Linked DNA regions of Homo sapiens. The protein of the gene in region 1 purifies or fractionates together with the protein of each later gene. This does not show direct contact. Each region holds a gene or a part of one and is shown on either strand. Other genes may lie near its edges.

The links. The genes of interacting proteins can lie anywhere in the genome.
Region 2: the proteins of PARP11 (region 1) and RNF114 purify together in Homo sapiens (affinity purification with mass spectrometry; 4 studies listed by BioGRID and IntAct, with this or other methods). This does not show direct contact.
Region 3: the proteins of PARP11 (region 1) and MAPK12 purify together in Homo sapiens (affinity purification with mass spectrometry; 3 studies listed by BioGRID and IntAct, with this or other methods). This does not show direct contact.

Annotation. Positions count from the first base shown.
Region 1 is NC_000012.12:3,869,990-3,878,066, forward strand, and holds the start of PARP11 (protein mono-ADP-ribosyltransferase PARP11), read right to left. Parts: upstream 3,411-8,077; 5' UTR 3,241-3,410; coding exon 3,223-3,240; intron 1,968-3,222; exon of another isoform or gene 183-1,967; intron 1-182. UniProt on the Homo sapiens protein: Mono-ADP-ribosyltransferase that mediates mono-ADP-ribosylation of target proteins. Plays a role in nuclear envelope stability and nuclear remodeling during spermiogenesis. Inhibits the type I interferon activated signaling pathway.
Region 2 is NC_000020.11:49,931,531-49,939,396, reverse strand, and holds the start of RNF114 (E3 ubiquitin-protein ligase RNF114), read right to left. Parts: upstream 3,001-7,866; 5' UTR 2,985-3,000; coding exon 2,845-2,984; intron 1-2,844. UniProt on the Homo sapiens protein: E3 ubiquitin-protein ligase that promotes the ubiquitination of various substrates. In turn, participates in the regulation of many biological processes including cell cycle, apoptosis, osteoclastogenesis as well as innate or adaptive immunity.
Region 3 is NC_000022.11:50,252,401-50,259,220, forward strand, and holds the end of MAPK12 (mitogen-activated protein kinase 12), read right to left. Parts: intron 5,902-6,820; coding exon 5,843-5,901; intron 4,794-5,842; coding exon 4,682-4,793; intron 4,565-4,681; coding exon 4,535-4,564; intron 4,247-4,534; coding exon 4,199-4,246; intron 3,800-4,198; coding exon 3,685-3,799; intron 3,482-3,684; coding exon 3,410-3,481; intron 3,295-3,409; coding exon 3,215-3,294; intron 3,132-3,214; coding exon 3,053-3,131; intron 2,971-3,052; coding exon 2,797-2,970; intron 1,081-2,796; coding exon 1,001-1,080; 3' UTR 501-1,000; downstream 1-500. UniProt on the Homo sapiens protein: Serine/threonine kinase which acts as an essential component of the MAP kinase signal transduction pathway.

The DNA.
Region 1 (8,077 bases):
CGTGGCCCCAGGCAGGATGGAGCACAATGGCATGAGATTTTATCACACTACACAGTACAGTATGCAACTTAAAAGTTATTAATTGTTCATTTCTGGAATTTTCCATTTCATATTTTCAGACCGCAGCTGACTTCTGGTAAGTGAAATTGTGGTAAGTGAAACCAGGAAAGCGAAACTAAAATAAACTAACAAATTACTAGAGAAACCCACACGTAGAATGTTGATTTTTAAAACCAAATTGCGCTTACTGATATCATTCATATGCTTATAGGAAGAAAAACTATTAGTAGTAATAAAATACAGTAGCAGTAAGACAAATATGTCTTATTTGGGTGGCAAAAGAAGAATGTGAGATGATCTGTGGAGGATTCCCCACTTTTAACAAAAGTCAGCCTGCTCTGCTGAAATTAGCAAAATCACACAGGTGATTTCAAAGAAAACCCATTGCTTACAAAGAAATGAGATAATGATATAACAAATCAAGTATATAAGACATTCATTAATGCCTTTATAATTCTCACAAACACACAAATAATCCAACAGCAAATTCTGATGTATGTGTGACGCAGGAGGGAAAATTCATAGTAGGAGCAAAGAATTATCTTTAGTCCTTGCTGGTACAACCACCATCATGAATTCAACAAATATTTATTGAGTGCCTACTATGTGTCAGGTTCTGTTCTCTAGTTGAAGATACTATAGGAAAAATAACAGAGAAAAACCCCTGTCCTTGTGGATCTTACAATATAGTGAAAGATTTAAAACCTTGAGTAAGACATATACTTGGGTGGCTAAAGGGTTTGTTATGGAAAAATTAAGAAGGACTGATAACAAAAAGGGAATAATAGCTACATAAAGATATAAATACAAAATGAAGGTTGTTGATGACAGATAGTGAAACTGAATATATAAGCAGAGAGCACATTCTCATTATTCTAAATTATTTTTGCTAAAATCAAATACAAGTAATTACTTTCCTCTAATGCAGCTTGAAGAGAGTATTATACGTATGAATCGAAAATACTAAGATGATGACTATTGTTATATGATGCACAAGAAGGAACCATAATGTGCAACTACCAAATCCAGACCAACAGACTAGTTTCTACTGGATAAAAACTTAACTTAAAAACATAGGGAAATGTACTGATAAACTTTCTAACTTATCTGGAAATATATTCCAGAAATGAGAGGGGAAGAATACTGATTATAGGAAATTATTGCAAATATGGAAATTAGGGGTTATTAAAGTAAATTTATGCAGTTATCTCAGCATAGGAGTAGTTTCTTATGTTTCATACACAATTATGCATTGCATAAAAGCTTTCAGTCAACCATGGATCGCATATACAAGTGGTCCCAAAGATTGTTAACACTTTATTTTACTGTATCTTTTCTATGTTTAGATACATAAATACTTTCCATTGTGTTACGAATGCCTACAGTATTCAGTACAATACTATGCTGTACAGATTTCTAGGTTAAGAGCAATAGGCTATTCCATATAGCCTTAGGTGTGTAGCAGGCTTATGAAAGTACACTCTATGACGTTGGCACAATGAAAAAAATCACCCAGCAATGAACTTCTCAGAACATATCCCCATTGTTAGGAGGCGCACGACTGTATTTAGTCCAACAACTTGCTGAAATGTGATTCTACCATTTTTCCAGTCAACTCCTAAGTTTTAAATACCATACATCTGCCACCTTACCAGGCAGTTTCAACCATAACAACAGAAGAATACTCTTGGCAAATAGATCCCACTCTCTGAGGGTTGTGTTGGGGCTCAGAAAATACTACCCCGAAGTATGACACTTTGGCATGCTGAATACTTTGAACTAAAAGAGATTGGAAGGCCTCAGAAGCAGCCTCGGAAGCAGTCTCTCCCTCTGATCTCCTGCCCTTCTGTCTCCTGCCCATCTTTCGTCCCAGAAGTGAGTCACAGAAACCAGAATTCTTCCCCAAGGTGAGTGATAGAAACTAGGATCCCTCTCCTACAAAGCAAGCCATAAAAACTGGAACTATTAAGCTTTCCCTGCCATTGTCTATAGGAACTGGCCATAAAGAAATTCTCTAATCTACCTTGCCTGATAGTAGGTCGCTAAGACCCTCATTCCAGAAGGGACCTTCCTCCTCCGTAGGAGGAAGAAATGATACACAGAGAGGCCAAGAAGAATCTGAACAAACAGACCTTGCTGGGCTTCCTTCCTCAGTTTATTAACATTAGAGTATATCCTTTGTCCAGTCACATTTTTACACAGTTGTCTATTCTTCATGGGTCCTACGCATAAAAATAGAGATCTCCCTGGTCTCTGAAGTGCCTGGTGGTGTAAAACTTTGATTAGATTTGCTCTGCTTTTACCTTGTTAACCTATCTTCTGTTTTAAGGAGTGGTGGCTGTGATCCTTACAATGGGTGGTGAGGAAAGGTACTAAAGTTTTCGGCCCCTACGTTGCACTTTAAATAAATAAATGTATAAAAGCAAAGTAGACAAAGACACATGAAGTCATAATGAAAATACCAGAGTCAGCCAAGGAAGAAGGCAGACTTGCAGTTGAAATGCTCCAGATCACTTTGTCCACCGAACGAAAACATCTAAGAACATACAGTCCATACTCCAAGTTTTAAACGACTGTCCACCAAGAAGGGAAAAGGAGAACTGATGGCTCCTCTTAGGCCCATTCAAGACAAGGGGGTCCCAATTCCCTTGCTTTAGACTGGTGGGACTGGCAGGTAAACCTGAGGCAAATGACTGACTACAGGTTCCAAGGCCAGTTACTCCAATTAGAAAGCAAAACACAAAGTTTCAAAAAACAGTGAAGGCAGTCGGGAGGCTGAGGCACGACAATCGCTTTAACCCGGGAGACGGAGGTTGCGGTGGGCCGAGATCACGCCACTGCACTCCAGCCTGGACAACAGTGCGAGACTCCGTCTCAAAAACAACAACAACAACAAATGGTGAAGGGATGAGGCTGAAACATCACGGGAAGTAAAATAAATAATTGTAACAAGAAAACAATAAAGCATTGGAGAATCCACCCAGGCACTTCCACTGCTTAAAAAGGTACAGACTACAGAAGCCAAAAGGCCCGGGAACTCCGGTCCCGGAACTCAACACCCAGACTGAAGCGAGCGCGGGGAAGCAGTTCCGGTGACCCCCTCCCGCCCCTCTCTCATCAACCCCGCCCCCTGGGCCCGCCCCGTCCCGCCCGGCTACTCACTGGATTCGCTTCCCACATAACGGTGACAAAATCGAGCGGAGAGAGCCTGTGGGAAGGGGCTAGCCGCGGGGCCTGGGTGTTGGATTTTTTTTTTTCCCGCGGGTCCCCGGGAGCGAAGGGACGGAGATGCAACCTTTACGAAGGCCTTCCTCCTCCCCCTCCCTGTCACAAGCCAGCGTTTACAGACCACCCAACCTCCCGACTTCCGCCCGACGTTGGCCAGTCAGATCTGTCTCCGCCCCACTCCTACAAGCTCGCCCCGCCCCTGCACGCTTATCCATACGCGCGCGGGCGGTCGTCCTGGGCGGGGCTTGCGAGTCTGTGTCTGACGAAGGAGTTTAAAGGGTTTCTGGTCCAACTGTATCACCCAGTGATCTTAAAGCCACGGCTGGCTGTATTTCTTTCCTATGAAACAAATTTTTATTGATCACCGTGTAACGACCAAGAGTCACACAGGCCTGGCAATGGCATTTGGGAGAAACTTCATAATCTTTCAATATCTTCATCCTCAAAATGGAGATGGTAGTAATATCTCCCTATGAGTGAGATTATTGAAAGCATTTAGCACAGTATTTGGCACACAGAGTTCAATAAGTGACGGTTATTTGCTCACAAGGGAACCTTTACATACTATCCCTGCCCTCAAGATTTTATAATCTAGAAAAGAAAGCAAAAAGTAGTTTAGAAAAGTTAAAAAGTGCAATATGATTTATAGGTAATATGGTGAATAGAGAGTGCTATGCGAGCATATTTACCTAGAGTAGAGTGTCAGGAAAGCTCCCTCAAGATGTTTAAAACCATGAGGATGTATTCCTACTGATGTAAAGAGAGCTAACAGAGTGAAATAATCTTCCATGCAACAAAGGATCTACCCCATAGGAAATGAAAATTAAACAGCTCATTATAGATCCTTCTGGACTTTTCTATGCCTCTACACATTGAAAAAAATGTAATCAAAGAATACCTATAGATTTAGAACCTGATTTTTTTTTCACTTTAAAGATTATGTGGCTATCCTTCCATTCCATTAAGTTTAAATCTGTTTCATCATTTTATTTATTTATTTAGGCAGAACCTCGCTCTGTCGCCCAGGCTGGAGCGCAGTGGCGCCATTTTGGCTCACTGCAACCTCCGCCTCCCGAGTTCAAGCGATTCCCGTGCCTCAGGCTCCTGAGTAGCTGGGATTACAGATGTGCGCCACCACGTCCCGCGAATTTTTGTATTTTTAGTAGAGACAGGTTTTCGCCATGTTGGCCAGGCCAGTCTCGAACTCCTGACCCCAGGTGATCCACCTGCCTTGGCCTCCCAAAGTGCTGGGATTACAGGTGTGAGCCATCTTGCACCCGGCCATATTTTAAAGTAGACTCATGGCATTCCATAACTTATGCGTATACTACGTACACACAAATAGACACACACATTTGAAATAATCTACTGAATAGACGTTTGAGTGGTTTTCTATTTTTCACTATCCCAAAAAAATCCTTCAACAGGCATTTCTTCACATTTGTCCATTTACTTCTTGGAATTAATTCCTGGAAATAAAATAGTTTACTAAGAGATTATTTTTGCCAAATGGTTGACCAGTTGCCCCCATGTCATTTAGTGAATATTCTTTCCTCACTACTTTGAAGTGCCACTGTTAATTACAACCTAAATTTGCATATACATATACATAGGTATACATACACGTATATATCTGTTTCTGAACATTCTCCTCTATTAATTATCTGCTTATTCCTAAAATATGCCACAGTTATAATCATTACATATTTAATATATTTGCCTTTTCATAAAGGAACCTCTCCTAATTCTCTTCTTTTTCAAAATTTTCAATATCATGGGTCTTTCCATTCAGAAATACTTGTTTTCTGTATCTTTAGATGCATTAACAATTTTTTTTCAGATCTGCATCAGCATCTGTAAAAAAAAAAAAAAAATCACATAGGTTTGCATAATCCTTGGGAAGTTTGTTCCTAGATATTTTATAGTTTTTTTGTAAGTGAGATATTTCTTATTGCTGTAATTTAGGAAAGCTATTGACTTTTGTTTATTTACCTTGTATCCTACCACACTATGAAAAAATGTCTTGTTAGTTCTAATAGCTTGACAGCTCATCTCTATGAATTTGTACACAGACAATCATTATCACCTGCAAATAATGCGTTTCTTTCTTCCTATTGCATTGGTCAAAACATCAGAAAAATGTTTAAGACTACAGGACAAGATAATGGATATCCAGCTTTAATGCAGTAAGGCAAGCATGTGCCCATTTGGTGCTAGTGCTAGTTGGTATTCTTTTTTTTTTTTTTTGAGCTGGAGTCTCGCTGTGTCGCCCAGGCTGGAATACAGTGGCACAATCTGGACTTACTGCCACCTCTGCCTCCTGGGTTCCAGCAATTCTCCTGCCTCAGCCTCCCGGGTAGCTGGGACTACAGGCACATGCCATCATGCCTGGCTAATTTTGTATTTTTAGAAGAGATGGAGTTTCACCATGTTGGCCAGGTTGGTCTCGAACTCCTGACCTCAGGTGATCCACCCGCCTCAGCCTCCCAAAGTGCTGGGATTACAGACGTGAGCCACTGCGCCTGCTAGTTGGTGTTCTGAAAATACACTATCATCTTTAAAGAAATTTTCTTCTATCCTGTTTTACTACATGCTGTTAAATCAGGAAAGAGTGCAAAATTTTACCAACTGTCTCTTAGCCTCTATCACTATATTTGTTTTTTACTCTGACTCTTTTATATAATGAATTATGCTCATTGATTTCCTAGTGTTCAACACATTCTTACATTTCTGAAATAAACTCTGCTTTGTCATGTTCTATTATTTTTTGATCAAATGAAAGCCATGCTGGGTTTGATTTGTTAATCTTTTATTTAGGATTAAAATGTATTTATAATTAATAAAATTGGTCCATTGTTACTGATTTTTGTGCTTGTCTGTAACAAGTTTTGGTATCAGAGTAATGCTAGCCTTGAAGAATGAACAGTAGCAGTTTAAGTAATTTAGGAACTAGCTCTTCCTTGAAGTTGGAAGCGAATTTTTACAAAGCAGGTTTAACTAGAAAGGTTAGAGCCAGGTCCTCAATCTTTTGTGAGGCTGGAGCTATACTTTGTTTTCTTGAAGATGTGGAGTTGCCTGAGCTGGTGGTAGGAGAGTGGGATGGAGAGAACACAACTGGTTTGAGTACATATTGAGTGAACAATTCCTTAAAATATACTGCTCTATACCTAAGTAACATGAAGGGAAGTGAAAACGGCTATACGAATTTTAGTGATTTTTTTGCTTATTTTTACTGCTTTAGGACCACTGAGTTAAACAGCAAGTATTGGAAGCGTCCTTAATGATTATTTAGCACACACAAAGTATTTAAACTTTTTTTAAATAAATGGCCACTATTTTAAAACTGGGAAATTTCAAATTTAATAATATGGGCCTCCAGTTTTGCTTTCACACTGTATTCCCATATGTCAACAACTGACTGAAGCCATGTTGACTCCTTTAGACTGGGAATGGGCTGTCAGTCTCGTTTAAATTACCTTCCTAGGCCCTTTCAGGTATTTGGGCTTATACCCAATGAGACACCTCTTATCTTGCTGAGGCAACATAATAGATCTAGGACTTCCTAAAATATCCTCACAGAAAACAACTTTACCGAACTCTCCCATAACTTACTCAAGAGTGAGCTCCATCACTGTAGCCCAAACTCTTGTGGTCTTTAGCAGATGATGGCAGTTCCCCCTTATCTGCAGGGGATACATTCCAAGACCCTCAGTGGCTGCATGAAACCACAGAAAGTACCAAACTTAGTATACACTTTTTTTTCCAACCTGATAACCAAGACAGCTACCAAGAAACTAATGGGCAGGCATAGCTCAGAGATATTTCCAGTCCACTTCCAGACTATCAGAATAAACCAAATATTATTATAAACCAAGTCATATAAATTTTTTGCTTTCCCGATGCATATAAATCTTATGTTTATACTATACTATAGTCCAGTAAGTGTGCAATACCATTATGTCTATAAAAAATGCTCATACCTTAATTTAAAAATACTTTATTGCTAAAAAATGCTAACAATCGGCTGGACCTGGTGGCTCACGCCTGTAATCCCAGCACTTTGGGAGGCCAAGGTGGGCAGATCACCTGAGGTCAGGAGTTCGAGACCAGCCTGGCCAATATGGTGAAACTCCATCTCTACTAAAAATACAAAAACTAGCCAGGCGTGGTGGCAGGCACCTGTAATCCTAGCTACTTGAGAGGCTGAGGCACAAGAATCACTTGAACCTGGGAGGCGAAGGTTGCAGTGAGCCAAGATCACGCCACTGCACTCCAGCCTGGGCAACAGAGTGAGACTCCTTCTCAAAAAAAAAATGCTAACAATCATCTGAGCCTTCAGCAAGTGATAATCTTTTTGCTGGTGGAGTTTCTTGCCTTGATCTTGATGGCTGCTAACTGATCAGGATGGTGGTTGCTGAAGGCTGGGGTGGCTACAGTAATTTCTTAAAATAAGACAACAGCAAAGTTTGCCACCATCAACTGACTCTTTCTTTCTTGAAAGATTTCTCTGTAGCATGTGATTTGGTTTGATAGCATTTTACCCACAGTAGAACATCTTTCAAAATTGAACTCAATCCTCTCCTCTCAAACTCTGTTGCTGCTATATCAACTGAGTTTGTGAAATATTTTCAGTCCTATGCTGACATTTCAGCAATGTTCACAGCATGATCGGCAGAAGTAGATTCTATCTCAGGAAACTTTCTTTGCTCATCCGTAAGAAGCAACTCCTCATTGGTTCAAGTTTCATCATGAGATTGCAGCAATTCAGTCACATCTTCAGGCTCCATTT
Region 2 (7,866 bases), on another chromosome or scaffold:
TGCCTCTAAGAATCTCCTTCCTCCTTGTCATTAAGTTAGATGTTAATGCTGTTAGGCAAAATTCCAGACCAGGTACAGAGAAGGTGAGGGAGTCTATTCATTCACCACTGAGGGCAATGGAAACTTGACAAAGCCCTGTTCTCATGATGCTTACATTCTAGAGTGAAGGGAAACACAAATGTTAATTTCAGATAGTGATTAAAAATATGAAGGAAATATGGCAAACAGACCAGCTGGGGTGATCATAGAAAGCTGCTTCTGAGGAGTTGGCATTTGAGCTGGGTGGGACCTGATTACGAGGACAGCCACACAGATCTGGGTGCAGAGCTCCACACCAAGATCACGCCACACACAAATGAGGACTGGAAAGGAAGGCAGGCAGACCTTGGGGGCCATGATGCGGTAGACCATGGTGAGAAGGGCAAGTGATGAGGCAGTAGAGACAGGCAGGGCCTGTGGCCATCACTTGTGTTGCCTGTTCACAAAGGCAGATGACAAGAGGAACCCAAGAGAGCACAGAGGGTCCAGTGAGTATAATGGAACCAAACCCAGCATGCAGATAAAAGCAGCTCGAAGTCTCTTCTCAAGCACACACACAGGTACAGCTCATCTATCAAATGTTCACGAGTCACTTTGTGCCTGAGACATGCCCAAACTACCAGCCTGCTTTTGAACAACTCAAATATCCTGGGATGGCTTTTCAGTTTCTATTTCCTACTTATGCGCCCTTTTCTAGTTCAGCCTTCCGATGCTCCACTCCGTCACAGTGCTAGGAAGAAATTCCCTTCTCTTGGGCACCCAGCCAGCTGCCTTTCTCCAGCTGTATTCTACCAGATTGGAGAACACAGTCATTCAGGGCTTGAAATAAAGTTTTATAAAAATCCAATGCCCCAGCCAGAGTTGCAGTGATGCTCAACTTTCCAAGCACAAAAGGTAAAAATCAACTAGGCACAGGAGAAAGCAGTCGGTTGGAGCTAGCGGGGATTTGGGCTGCCCTCACAGAGGTGCTTCCATCTGTCTTCAATTTGCACTGAACTGCTGATCACGTGGGGCTAGGACAGCGAGGATAGAGAAGAGCCAAGGTTTGAAAACCAGTACTGTTCCTTGCCCTCTGACCTAGGAAAGGTTCACCAAGCTCAAGAAAATCTCAAATTTTGCTGCTCTTCATTTAGCAAACTGTGCTGGGTCTAGCCTTTTTACAAATGTTAATAGTAAATGAAATCCACTGAATTAATCCAAAATCAGGTAAATCTGATCCAAGGATAAGTGGATTCAATGAAAAAGCTAAAGACCACTTCAACTCTCGTGAAGCTTGCTTACACGACTTATTAGTTCATTCAACCATTACCTGATCACTCACCCCACGCACAGAGGTGTGATCCCTGAAATACCCTCCCACTTGCAGAATGAATTTTTACAATAGTTTGACCAGTCATTGGTACTTATTTATAATCAATTCACTGGACTGTAAACTCTGAAGGCAGAGTCTACCCCAAAATCTGGCACACAGAGGCCATTCCAGTCAGTTCAGGGGCAATAAAGATATGGCCACTCCGTCATGAGCTGTTAAGTTTTGCTCTGTGCAAGCAAGGAGAAGGAAGTTAAGTCCCAGAAAGGAAGTGGGGGAAGTAATTTAGATGGGGATGGTATTTGGTGAGGTAACTTAACCTGGGACTTGAAGCCTGAAAAGGGAGGGGTGGGGGGAAGAGTTCCAGGCTAACCGAATTGCAAAGATGAATAGCCTAAAGCAACATGATGAAGCAAAAAGCAGCCAGCTAGGTGCCAAGCACTGTTCTCTGGACTACTGAAATGGTCACCTGCAGTACATCTGGGAAGAGCTAGGCCACGGTGACCCTTCCCTAAGAGAGCCTCGGACCCTCAGTGTATTCACCTGTAAAATGGCTGCCAACCCTCCCCCGCTGCAGGGTGGCTATAGAATAATGCCCATGGAGTGCAATGGCTACTGTGCCCGCTGCCAAGACCAATGCCAAGGTGATCCCACGATAAGCACTGAGAGGGGCCAGAGGAAAAGCCAATTCTGAGGCAAGAAGCAGGTGGCCACGTTGTCTACAATTCTTTCAACTCAGATGTGTTTGTGCGTCTGATGGAACAAGGCTTAGATTCAAATCGACCAACCTGACCAACCTCGAAAGCCCCGGCCACAGCCCAGGACCTGGACTGGACATTTATACACATATCTGCTTTAATCATTATAACCACTCTATTCACAATATTCAGGTCATGAAGGCTTAATTGAAAACTGAAAGAAACAAACCTCCTACACAGGAAGTAGAATGCTAACAATCCCATCTGCCAACTCCCACCCCCCTTTCACAGCTAAGGGCAAACTGGCCAGATCCCCATAAAGACTTCCCTTTTGTTGTTTTAGTCTAGTTCAGCGTTTCTCCCGACTTTAGTGCACAGTAGAATAACTCGCCACAGCTAGACACGACGCCAAATGTCCTATGCTTTAAGAGCGACGTGGACTAGAAAGGAAACGTCGGCTCTCCAAGGGCGGACTTCGGAGCCTAAAGTCCCCGCAGGGCACGAGTCCACTATCACGTGTGGGAAGGAGACTGACAGGCCGCCTGGAACATCGCAGGCGCTCAACAGACAGCAGCTGCCCCGCTAAGACGGGCGGAGGAACGGGATACTTAGGAGTGAGCGGGGCGGGACAGAAGAGCGCCCCGGCAGCTTTCACGGCCCTTAGGAGCCCCGGGGGACACCCCCGGGAGGCCCCTCTGGGTGGGTCCTCTGGCTCCCGCCCTGAGACCCATCTCGCTCCTCGGCTCCATTCCCTTCCCAGTTAAGCGCCCCCCGACCAGGCCCGGGCTCGCCGCTTACACGTGTCCGCAGGGCACCTGTACCGGCTTCTCGTACACCTCTAAGCACACGGGACACGTGAAGCGTCCTAGGGGGTCAGCCTCCGCCGCCGGCCCCGCCAGCTGCGCAGCACCCCCGCAGTCCCGCTGTTGCGCCGCCATCTTGCTGCCGCTCTGCGCCGCGCAACGGCGGCCGATGAGGAGGAGGCCGAGGGGGCGGGGCTCGCGGGGCGGTGAGCGGTTGGGGGCGGGGCTAGCGGGTGGGCCGCCCCTCGGGGCCCCTCTGACGCAAGCGAGCTAGAGGCCGAGGGAAATCTGGAAAACGTGGAAGCCAAATCCAAAGGCTGCCAGAATTGGGACGGGCTCTGCGCGTGGGCCGCTGTTTTCCAAATTTATCGTTAGTTCGGCACCACTTGCACTATCACTATTTATCTTCGAATCAAGTTGCTTTTTCCTTAAATTTATTTATTTATTTATTTAATCTATTTTGGGACAAGGTCTTGCTTTGTCGCCCAGGCTGGTGTTCAGTGGCGCGCGCGATCATGGCTCCCTGCAGCCTCGACCACCGGGGTTCAAGCGATCCTCCCACCTCAGCCTCCTGCGTAGCTGGACCACAGGCAGTCACCACCATGCCGGACTAATTTATTTATTTTTGTATTTTTTGTAGAGACGGGGAAAGGAGGGGGGGAAGGAGTGGTGCAGAGAGCGGGCGGGTCTCACTGTGTTGCCGAGGCTGGCCTCGAACTCTTGGACGCAAGCAATCCGCCTGCCTCGGCAACCCGAAGTGCTGGGATTACAGCGGTGAGCCACAGTACCCAGCCATTTCTTAAATTTAAGCAAATTCTAATAACAGATCTAATTCCTGAGCTGCAAGAAGAAAATCAATATCATTTATTTATACAAAGGAGCTGGGCAAGGTGGCTTACTTCTGTAATCTCAGCACTTTGGGAGGCCGAGGTGGGCGGATCGCTTGAGCCTAGGAGTACTAGAGCAGCCTGGCCAACATGGTGAAACCCCGTCTCTACTAACAATACTAAAATTAGCCAGGCGTGGTTGCCCATGCCTGTAGCCTCAGCTACTCAGGACGCTGAGGCAGGAAAAGCCTTTGACCTGGGAGGCGAAGGTTGCCGTGGGCCAAGATGGCTCACTCACTCCAACAGTCACTAAACTCCAGCCTGGGCAACAAGAACGAAACTCCGTCTGAAAAAAAAAAAAAAAAACAAAAACACAACCTGGCTAACACGGTGAAACCCTGTCTCTACTAAAAATACAAAAAATTAGCCGGGCGTGGTGGCGGGCGCCTGTAGTCCCAGCTACTCGGGAGGCTGAGGCAGGAGAATGGCTTGAACCTGGGAGGCGGAGCTTGCAGTGAGCCAAGATCTTGCCACTGCACTCCAGTCTGGGCGACAGCGCGAGACTCCCTCTCAAAAAACAACAACAACAACAACAAAACAAAACAAAAAAACCCCAACAACAAAGTACATTCATTTCATATTGTGCAATCATCACCATCAGCTATCTCTAAAATTCTGGTCTTCTTGCTAAACTGAAACTGAAATTCTGTCCCCATTAAACAATAACTTCCTCTTCCCTCCTCCCATCCCCATACCCCCAGGCCCTGGCAATTTTCTGTCTATGATTTTGAAGCACTTATAGCTATAAAATTTCCCCTGAGCACTGCTTTCACTGTGTCCAGTAAATTTTGGCATGCTGTGTTTTTGTTTTCATTTGTTTCTCAATATTTTCTCTATTTATTTAATTAATTTATTTATTTTGAGATGGAGTCTCACTCTGTCGCCCAGGCTGGAGTGCATTGGTGCAATCTCTGCTCGCTGCAGCCTCCCTCTCCTGGATTCAAGCAATTCCCTTGCCTCAGCCTCCCAAGTAGCTGGGATTACAGGTGCCTGCCACCACGCCTGGCTAATTTTTGTATTTTTAGTAGAGACAGGGTTTCACAATGTTGGCCAGGCTGGTCTCAAACGCCTGACCTCAAGTGATCCGCCAACCTCGGCCTCCCAAAATGCTGGGATTACAGGTGTGAGCCACCCAGCCTGGCCTGTTTCTGAGTATTTTCTAATTTCCCTTGTGATTTCTTCTTTGATCCATTGGTTCTTTTAAGAGTGTGTAAATTTCCACAAATTTGTGAATTTTCCAGTTTTCCTTTGATATTGATTTCTTTTTTTTTTTAACCCCCCCATATTGATTTCTAGCCTTATCCAATTGTGCTTGGAGAAGATATTTGGTATGATCTCTTTTATTTCTTCTTTCTTTCCTTCTTATCTTTCTCTCTTTCTCCTTTTCTTCTGTCTCTTTTTGTAGAGATGAAGTCTGGCTGTGTTGCCCAGGCTGGTTGCAAACTCCTGGGCACGAGCAATCCTCCTGCCTCAGCCTCCCAAAGTGCTGGGATTACAGGCCTAAGCCACCACAGCTGGCTGATGTCTACCTTTTAAAATCTCTTGAGGCTTAATCTGTGGCCTAACATATGGTCCATCCTGGAGGATATCCCATGTGTGCCTGAGAAGAATGTGGATGCTGTTGTTGCTGGGGAGTGTCTGTACATGTGTTAGACCTGGTTGTCTTACTGTGTCGCTCAAGTCCTTTATTTCCTTACTTGTCTCCTGTTTGTTCTATTTATTCTTGGGAGTGGGGCATTGAAGTCTCTAACTATTATTGTGGAATTGTCTATTTCTTCCTTCAATTCTACCAATTTTTGCTTCATATGTTCTGATGGTCTGTTATTAGGTATATAAATGTTTATAATTGTTATATCTTCTTGCTGTATTGAACTTTTTATTAACATACAATGCCTTCTTTATCTCTTGTAACCTTTTGGACAAGTAATTTTTCTTTTTTCTTTTTTTGAGACAGGGTCTTGCTCTGTCGTCCAGGCTGGAGTGCAGTGGTGTGATCTCAGCTCACGGCAACCTCTGTCTCCTGGGTTCAGGTGATTCTCCTGTTTCAGCCTCCTGAGTAGCTGAGACTACAGGCATGCACGACCACGCCTGGCTAATTTTTGTATTTTTAGTAGAGACAGGATTTCACCATATTTTTTAGGCTGGTCTCAAACTCCTGACCTCAGGTGATGCACCCGCCTCGGCCTCCCAAAGTGCTAGGATTACAGGTGTGAGCTACCGTGCCCGGCCTGGACAAGTAATTTTTCTGATATTAGTATTGCCAGCCCTCCTCTTCTTTGGTCACGCAAAAAGATATTTGCATGAAATATCTTTTTCCATCCTTTCAGAACCAGTCTATAAAGTGAGTTTCTTATAGAGAGCAATACAGTTGAATCATGTTCTTTAAAAAAAAAAAAAAAAAAAGCTGGGTATGGCGGCTCATGCCTGTAATCTCAGCAGGAGGAGGCTGAGGCGGGTGGATCACCTGAGGTTAGGAGTTCAAGACCAGCCTGACCAACATGGTGAAACCCTGTTTCTACTAAAAATACAAAAATTAACCGGGCCTGGTGGTGCATGCCTGTAGTCCCAGCTACTTGGGAGGCTGAGGCAGGAGAATCGCTTGAACCTAGGAGGCAGAGGTTGCAGTGAGTGGAGAACGAGCCACTGGACTCCAGCCTGGGCAACAAGAGTGAAACTCAGTCTCAAAAAAAATTTCTTTTAAATTAATTTTTTTTTTTTTTGAGACAGAGTCTCGCTCTGTTGCCCAGGCTGGAGTGCAGTAGCACAATCTCGGCTCACTGCAAGCTCCGCCTCCTGGGTTCACGCCATTCTCCTGCCTCAACCTCCTGAGTAGCTGGGACTACAGGCGCCCACCACCACGCCCGGCTAATTTTTTTTGTATTTTTAGTAGAGACGGGGTTTCACCATGTTAGCCAGGATGGTCTCGATCTCCTGACCTCACGATCGGCCCACCTCGGCCTCCAAAGTGCTAGGGATTACAGGCGTGAGCCATTGTGCCCAGCCTAAATTTTTCCTTCCTTTTTTCCTTCCTTCCTTCCTTCCTCCCTCCTTCCCTTCCTTCCTTCCTTCGTTCCTTCCTTTGTTCCTTCCCTCCTTCCCTCCCTTTCTTTCTTTCCTTTTTTTTTTTTTTTTTTTTTTTGAGACAGAGTCTCACTCTGTCACCCAGGATGGAGTGCAGTGATGTGATCACAGCTCACTGCAGCCTTGACTTCCCAGGCTCAAGTGATCCTCCTGCCTCAGCCTCCTGAGTAGGTGAGACTACAGGCATGTGCCATCACACCTAGCTATTTTTTCTATTTTTTGTAGTGATGGGGTCTCACTATGTTGCCTAGGCTTTTTTTTTTCTTTTTTGAGACAGGGTCTGGCTCTGTTGCCCAAGCTGGAGGACAATGGCAAAATCTTGGCTCACTGCAACCTCCACCTCATGGGCAAAAGCCGTCCTCCCACCCCAGCCTCCCAAGTAGCTGGGACTATAGGCGTGCACACCACACCCAGCTAATTTTTAAATTTTTTGTAGAGACAGGGTTTCACCATGTTGCCAAGGCTGGTCTCGAACTCTTGAGCTCAAATGGTCCTCCTGTCTTGGTCTCCCAAAGTGCTGGGATTACAGGAGTCAGCCATCATTATTAAAATTTGTTTGCTTAAATTTAAGAAAGGGCTGGGCATGGTGGCTCACGCCTGTAATCCCAGCACTTTGGGTTGCTGAGGGGGGTGGATCACTTTTGTCCAGGGGTTTAAGACCATCCTGGGTAACACAGTGAGACACCCCACCACCCCCAACTCCCTCCCCCATCTCTACAAAAAATACAAAAATAAGTGGGAGGATCACTTGAGGCCAGGAGTTCAAGATCAACCTGGGCAACGTACCAAGACCCTGCTGTCTACAAACAAACAAACATAAAATTAGCTGAGTGCAGTGGCATGTGCCTGTAGTCTTAGCTACTCAGAGGAGGGTTGCTTGAGCCCAGGAGTTCAAAGCATCATTGAGCTGTAATCTTGCCACTGCACTCCAGTCTGGGCAAGAGCAAGACCCTGTCTCAAAAAAAAAAAAAAAAACAAAATTAATGCCAGGTGCAGTGGCTCACACCTGTAATCCCAGCACTTTGGGAGGTCAACATGGGAGGATCGCT
Region 3 (6,820 bases), on another chromosome or scaffold:
AAAACCCAGCCCTCTGCGCTCACCAATCCACCACAGGGGCCAGAGGGGTCTCAACATGTCCAATGTGCCCCGTCCCCCCAGGGACTGGCTGGCGCTCACCACTTCACCACAGGGGTCTCAACGTGCCCAGCGTGCCCCCTCCCCCCAGGGACCTGCTGGCATTGGAGGATGCAGAGAGCTAGGGTAGATCCTAACACTCCTCCCCATCAGGCCCTGCCCCTGGGTCTGGCTTCAGGATCCACACACAGTGGCTTAGAGTCTAAGCCATTAGCAGGTCACCCCGTAAAAGGGGAGGGGCCAAGCCCTAACGTGGGGGTTCGAAGATCACTGGCACAGGCCTGGGGGAAGTGGGCACCAGCTTTGTGGCCTGGGAGAGATGGGATGCTCAGGCCCCCCTCCTGGCTCTAAGGGTCTGAGCTATCAGGCCAGCCTCCTCTACATGCAGGCCAAGGGCCCGGAGGTCTTAAGGTGGGACCCGGCATGAGGACGCACAGCCAGAACAGGGAGCTACAAAAGGGTCTATTTCCTTCCAGCCACGCGGGCACCACACAGCTGATTTACATTCCAGGCTGGGGGTGCAGGAAGGTCCACTGACGTCGCCCAGGAGAGGGGATGTCCCTGAGTTGGTGCCCTGCGCCCACCCTCTGTCCTTCCTCTGCATGGCCCAGAGCAGGCAGGGCTCAGAGGCCAAGGCCTGATCTGGAGCCCCACCAGCTCTGAGGTTTCTGAGAGCACCGGGCAAGTGGGCCACTGCTCCAGGGATCAGAGGCCATCCCCAGGTCGGCCAGAGGTCTTGTCCAGAAAGTTCAGGTGCTCCTCCATGATGGGCGCCCAAGAGCAGAGGCATGGCCGTGGGGAGGAGGGTCCATGGAACCCGGGCGTCTGCTCTGATGGATGCCTTGGGATGCAAGCCCCAGCCAAGGTCAAGGTGGCAACGAGAGTCCCCTCTCAGGTGGAAGGTGAAGGTGGTCCTCACTGCCACCCCGGAGCCCAGAGATCTTCACAGAGGCGTCTCCTTGGAGACCCTGGCCCCCAGCTGCCGGGGAGGCTTGAAGCTGAGCACCTCTTTGTAAGTAACACCTGGCGGGGGTGGGGGGGCGGGCACAACAGAGAGGGGGGTCAGCCTTTGCCTTCCATCCTGGGAGTCGCTCACAGACACGCCTGGCGGTGCCTCGTGGGGCCCTTCTCTAATCCTAATGTGGTCTGAACCACTGAGAGAAGGTTTGTGTGAAGAGGCCATTGCTCTAGATCTGGATTTTCCAGGGAAAGGGGAGGTGGCCAGGGCTTGGCCACATGTCCACCACGGTCTGTCCTAAGAGCTGAGGCCTCAGCCACAGTTGTGTGGGTGGGGACTACAGAGAGGATCCTATGGCCCATGGCTTTCAAGTTATCTTTCTAGCAGCAGAAACCTTTAATCAAACAAAGCCAAACTCATAAGCACACGAATATGCACACAGCGAAGGGTGGAGGCCCTGCTGCGGGCACCCAGGGACCCGTGGTCGTAAGGAGCACATGTGAATCTCAACCCATCCAGCCCCACCCAGCCAGTGTGGAGGACCAAGGTCCCGCACCCGAGGCAGAGCCAGGACAGGGCCTGAAACATGGCACGGCTCCCAGTGTACACCTACTTTCCCCGGGCACACCCACCCCAGGCTGGTCATGCAGCCATGAAGAAGACACAGCCTGCCATCCTGGAGCAGAAATGAAGCCAGGTCCAGCACAGCCTCAGGCCGCAGCATAGCTGCGGGAGCTGGGGAGGCTTCTCTGAGTCCAGCCTGAGGCTGCACAGGCTTTGGCCAGCCCTCCAAGTTGAGGGGATAGCCCCTGGTATAGGGGATGATGGACCCCAGCAGTTGGGGTTGGAGTCTGGACTGCTTAGCGGGGGCTGGGGGAGACAGGCGAGGCCCTGGGGACTGTCTTGGGTATACAGTTGTCCAGGGGGGAGGGATCCTAAAGTGGGGCAAGGAGAGGGCTGGGCGCGGTGGCTCACGCCTGTAATCCCAGCACTTTGGGAGGCCGAGGCGGGCGGATCACGAGGTCAGGAGATCGAGACCATCCTGGCTAACACGGTGAAACCCCGTCTCTACTAAAAATACAAAAAATTAGCCAGGCCTGGTGGCGGGCGCCTGTAGTCCCGGCTACTCGGGAGGCTGAGGCAGGAGAACGGTGTGTACCCGGGAGACGGAGCTTGCAGTGAGTCAAGATCGTGCCACTGCCCTCCAGCCTGGGCATCAGAGTGAGACTCCGTCTCAAAAAACAAAAATGGGGCAAGGAGAGGCAAGGACAGATTCAGGAGGTGTGAGCAGAGAGGCCTTAGGGACAAGCGGACGTGGTGAGGGTGTCAGGGTGGCCCAGGTCTCTGGCCTGGACATGGCGGAAGGGCAGCAGGTCTGGGGGCCAGGAGGGGCTAAGTGGGCCCTGGTTCCCTGACTCACAGCTGCCTTTCACCACTCCCGGCTCCTTCTGTGCCAGCCTCTGTGCTGAGCCTGCCAGGAACACCCTTCCCTTCAACTTCCAGCTCCAGCCAGAGGTCATCTCCACCAGGCCACACGGCCCCATGCTGCCCTGACCTCCCATCCTCCTCACCTGACCTGCATCCCAGGGATGGGGATCTAGGACTCTGAGCCTGGCCACCTGCACAGGGCCCACAGGGTCCACACAGGCCCTACCCGGAGCCCCCAACTCACGGGTCCACACAGGCCCTACCCGGAGCCCCCAACTCACAGGTCCACACAGGCCCTGCCCAGAGCCCCCCACTTGGGTCCACACAGGCCGTGCCAGGAGCCCCCCACTCACGCTTCCATTCATCCAGTGTGCGGTCAACGTCGTCAAAGGAGTCATCATACTTCTGGACCTGGGGCTCATCTTCCGTGTCGTGCAGGGACTCGAAGTAGGGATGGGCCAGCGCCTCGCCTGCCGTCACCCGCTGCTCCGCGTCCAGCACCAGCATCTTCTCCAGGAGGTTCACAGCTGCGGGGGAAGGTGCATCAGGCCAGACCACGGGAGGCCCCACACTCCAGCACCCGGTGGCCCCCACACTAGCCAGCCGTACCCAGAGGGCTTGCATTGGTCAGGATAGAGGCAAAATCCTTCTTCTCCAATTCGGGGAGGCCCTTCATGTAGTTCTTGGCCTGTGTGGGAAGAAAGGGTGAGGGGCCAACACCAAGGCCCAGGTCCGCCCCCACCCCCACCCAGCTCCCCACTCACCCCTTACCTCATCGCTCTGCAGCCGCTGCACAAACTCAGCCGGAGGCGTCCCCGTCACCTTCATGATCTCCTTCAGCTGGTCCAGGTCTGCACCGAGGTCAGGAACACAGCTCGGGGGCCAGAGATCAGGGCCCCCACTGCCCCCACCTGGGCAGGAGCCATCCCCACCCGCCCCTGGTGCCGCCCTGCGGCTGGAGGATACGGTCGCTGCCCTTGAACAGCGTCTTGCCTGTGATCATCTCCGCCATGATGCAGCCCACAGACCAGATGTCCACTGAGATAGAAGCCCTGGTCAGCTCCGTGGGCAGGGGGACAGGATGAGACGGGGAGGGAGGAGACACCAACACAGCCCACCTGCCCGGCTCCCACCCCAGCTCAACAGCCTCCCTGGGAGCAGCCACCACAGGGCTGTCCGTGAAGAAGTGGAGAAGCAGATGGTGCAGCCTGAGAGGCCCAGATCTCTGGGCAGCTTCTCACCCGTCTGCGTGTAGCGCATCCAATTCAAGATGACCTCGGGAGCCCGGTACCACCGGGTCACCACGTACCCAGTCATCTCACTGTCTGCCTGCCTGGCCAGGCCGAAGTCCAGGATCTGTGGGAAGAATTGGGGAGGTGGGTTCTAGGGGACTCCCAAGGAGCGGACAGGCCACCCACGGTCCAGGAGACCCCGGGGGGTTGGACTTGAAGCTCCCAAGCTGGGGCCTCCTGACAACCTTCAAGGACTTGAGGCCACGCCCTCGGACCCCAAACTGCCCCGAGCTCCTCCCTCTGGCCAGTGCACCAAGCCCAGCAGCCCTCGGGACGGAGCAGGTGCCCTGGGTACGGCATGTTGTGTACCACTGCCTCTTGGGCTCACCCACCCACCAGCTCCTCAGCCACTGCCCAGAGCCTGGGACCTTGGCCCCCTGCCCAGGCCTGACAGGTGGATAGATGGGCAGATCCAGAGGGGGCCCCTGCCCCACCTCAGGGCCCCCTGCCAGGCAGCACACACCTTCAGCTCACAGTCTTCGTTCACAGCCAGGTTGCCGGGCTTCAGGTCCTGGGGGCAGAGGAAAGGTGGCCACTGTGCCCCACCCTCCCAAGCATGGGCACAGCCAAGAGCCTGGGTGGCACCTAAAGATGGGGCCACCGGACCTGGCCCCCTTGCTCTCTGCAGCCCTTCAAGGGCAGACCAAGGTACCTGGGCACCCAGGCAGGTTCCCACCAGGGGCTGTGCATAGGGCGTGGCTCAGCACCCAGACCCCATCACATCCTCACAGGTGGGACGTGGAGGCGGGGGGATTGCACTGGGGGAGGGCTGATGAGCGGCTTCTCCACCGGGACTCACTCTGTGGATGATGCCGGCAGCGTGGATATACTGCGGGGGGCAGAGGATTTGGCAGGCTTCAGCGCACCCTCTCAGAGCCACAGGGCCCTCCTCTGCCCAGCCCCGAGGCCCTGCCTGCCTCCCTGCAGCCTCCCCCGGGGCCCGTACCCTCAGCCCCTTCAGCATCTGGTACACGAGGAACTGGATCCGGTCCTCGCCTAGCTTCTCATGTTTCATGAGCTTGCCCAGGTCGGTGCCCATGAACGGCATCACCAGGTAACTGTGGGAGGGGCCGGAGCGCTGTCAGCGGACAGAGCCAGCCTCTGCATCCCAGAGACCCACCCAGCAGGCCCAGGCTCAGACCCGTCCCGGATCCAACAGGCACCCCCAGGAAGGTCACCCCTGCAGCACACATCCACACTGGCCTCGGTGTCCTCGCAGCCCCACCTTGCAGTGCCAGGCTCCATCCTCCCGCAACTGTTACTGCCAGCAGCGCTCACACCCCCCTCCCACCCTGAGGACTGTCAGGCAGGGAGGAGGCTGCCTTGGGGTTTTTGAACCCTCCGCTGAAGCGCCCTGCGTGCCAGGCTAGGGGCTGAGGCTCCATGGTAGAGGCAGCAGGACTCGAGTCTTCACAGGCAGGGGAGGGAGGCAGTCAGGTTTCAACTTCACAACTTTGTGCCAGAAATGAGGGAGGTGCCTGGGGGCGATGGGGGCGCGGCAAGGCATCTGGGTCAGAGGGGTCGGCTGGGCCGGTGGAGACAGACACAGGAGAATGGTATTTAGCACCTTCCCAGAGGCCACTGACTTGACCTCTGCAAGTCAGGCGGGAGGCGCCTGCTACCCTCTCCAGGCCTTCCTCGGCCTGGCCCTTCACTCTTGGCCGACAGGGTGTGAGTCCCAGGGTGGTCGGCTGCAGGGCAGGGGCAGGGTGGGTCCTCCCTACCGCTTCTCCCCCACCCGCTGGAAAAGGTCAGCAGCTCCAGTTACCGGCCACACACTTGGTGCCAGGGTCCCGAGCACGGGACCTTCCTGTTAACAAATGGTCAGGTCCAAGGTTCACACCTCCGGTGCTGGAGAGGGCCCAGGTGCCAGGCGTGGAGAGAGGCAGCAGCCCCAGCTCTGCCCAGCTGTGCCAGTGCCCGTGGGTCCCAGGACCATGTGGGGGAGGGCGTGGGGTGGACAGTGGTATGGGGAGGGGGTGGGCGGTGTGCATCCCCCACTCAGGCTGCAGGAAGAGAACCCCATTGCCAACCTAGAACCTGAAGCCAGTGCCCAGAGCTGCCCAACACCCCTCGTGCCCAGCGGCCAGCCCAGGTCGGCACTCACAAGTCCGTGAAGTCATCCAGGGTCTCATCAGGAGTGAATACGTCCAGCAGCCCGATCACCTGGGGGGGCCACATAGGGTTGAGAATGCAGCAGAGGACACGGGCTGGGGCACCCCCCAAGAGTGGCACAACCCTCTGGGCAGGAAACCCCCTCTGCAGCTGTCATTGTCATGCCCCACTGTCCAAAGGGCCTGGCTCTGCCCACTGGCAGTGTGGCCCAGCCCTGGCACACATACCCACTGGCAGTGTGGCCCAGCCCTGGCACACATACCCACAGAAAGGTTATTTTTGGACGGTGACAACCGGGATCTTCTGGGGGAGGGGCAACCCGGAGTCTGGGATGGCTCCGAACCATCCAAAGGGCTCCTGCCGCCTGACCCTTTCACCCCTCTTCACCCCAACCAAACAGATCCAGGCCCAGGGTGGGGACAGCGCTATGGAAAGAGGCCAGGCCTCTGCTGGTGAGGCCCAGGCGGACAGCACCGTGACCCACCAGACCTGGTCCCCTCAGCACCCCTGGTTGGGGAGATAGACAGTAGACAGGTCATGTGACAACTGCCGCCTCAGCATTTTGGGGTGACGGTCCCAGGGAGGCCTGGAGTTTTGCACAGCCAAGGGTGGAGGGGCAGGTAGACATGTGGGCTGCGGGACACCTGGCAGAGGGCACACACAGAGTGGCCGAGGCAGGAGGGAGCACACTTGGATAGTTTGAAGAATACAGGGAGGGAGGCCAGGTGGCGGAGGCCCAGGCCAGGGAGGGGCTGAGGAGAGGCCAGAGGGAGCCGGCAGGGCAGCACACACCAGGTGGAAGTTTGGCTTTGATCCCAAGAGACGGGGACGATTTAAATGGGGACGTGAGGCTAAATGCGTCCTCCTGGCCGTGGTGTAGGAACCGGCCAGAGTGAGGTAAGAATGGACACAAGCTGGAAGGACAGCTCCGCCGGAGCCACGTGGGCCAGAGCCATGGGCAAGAATGTGG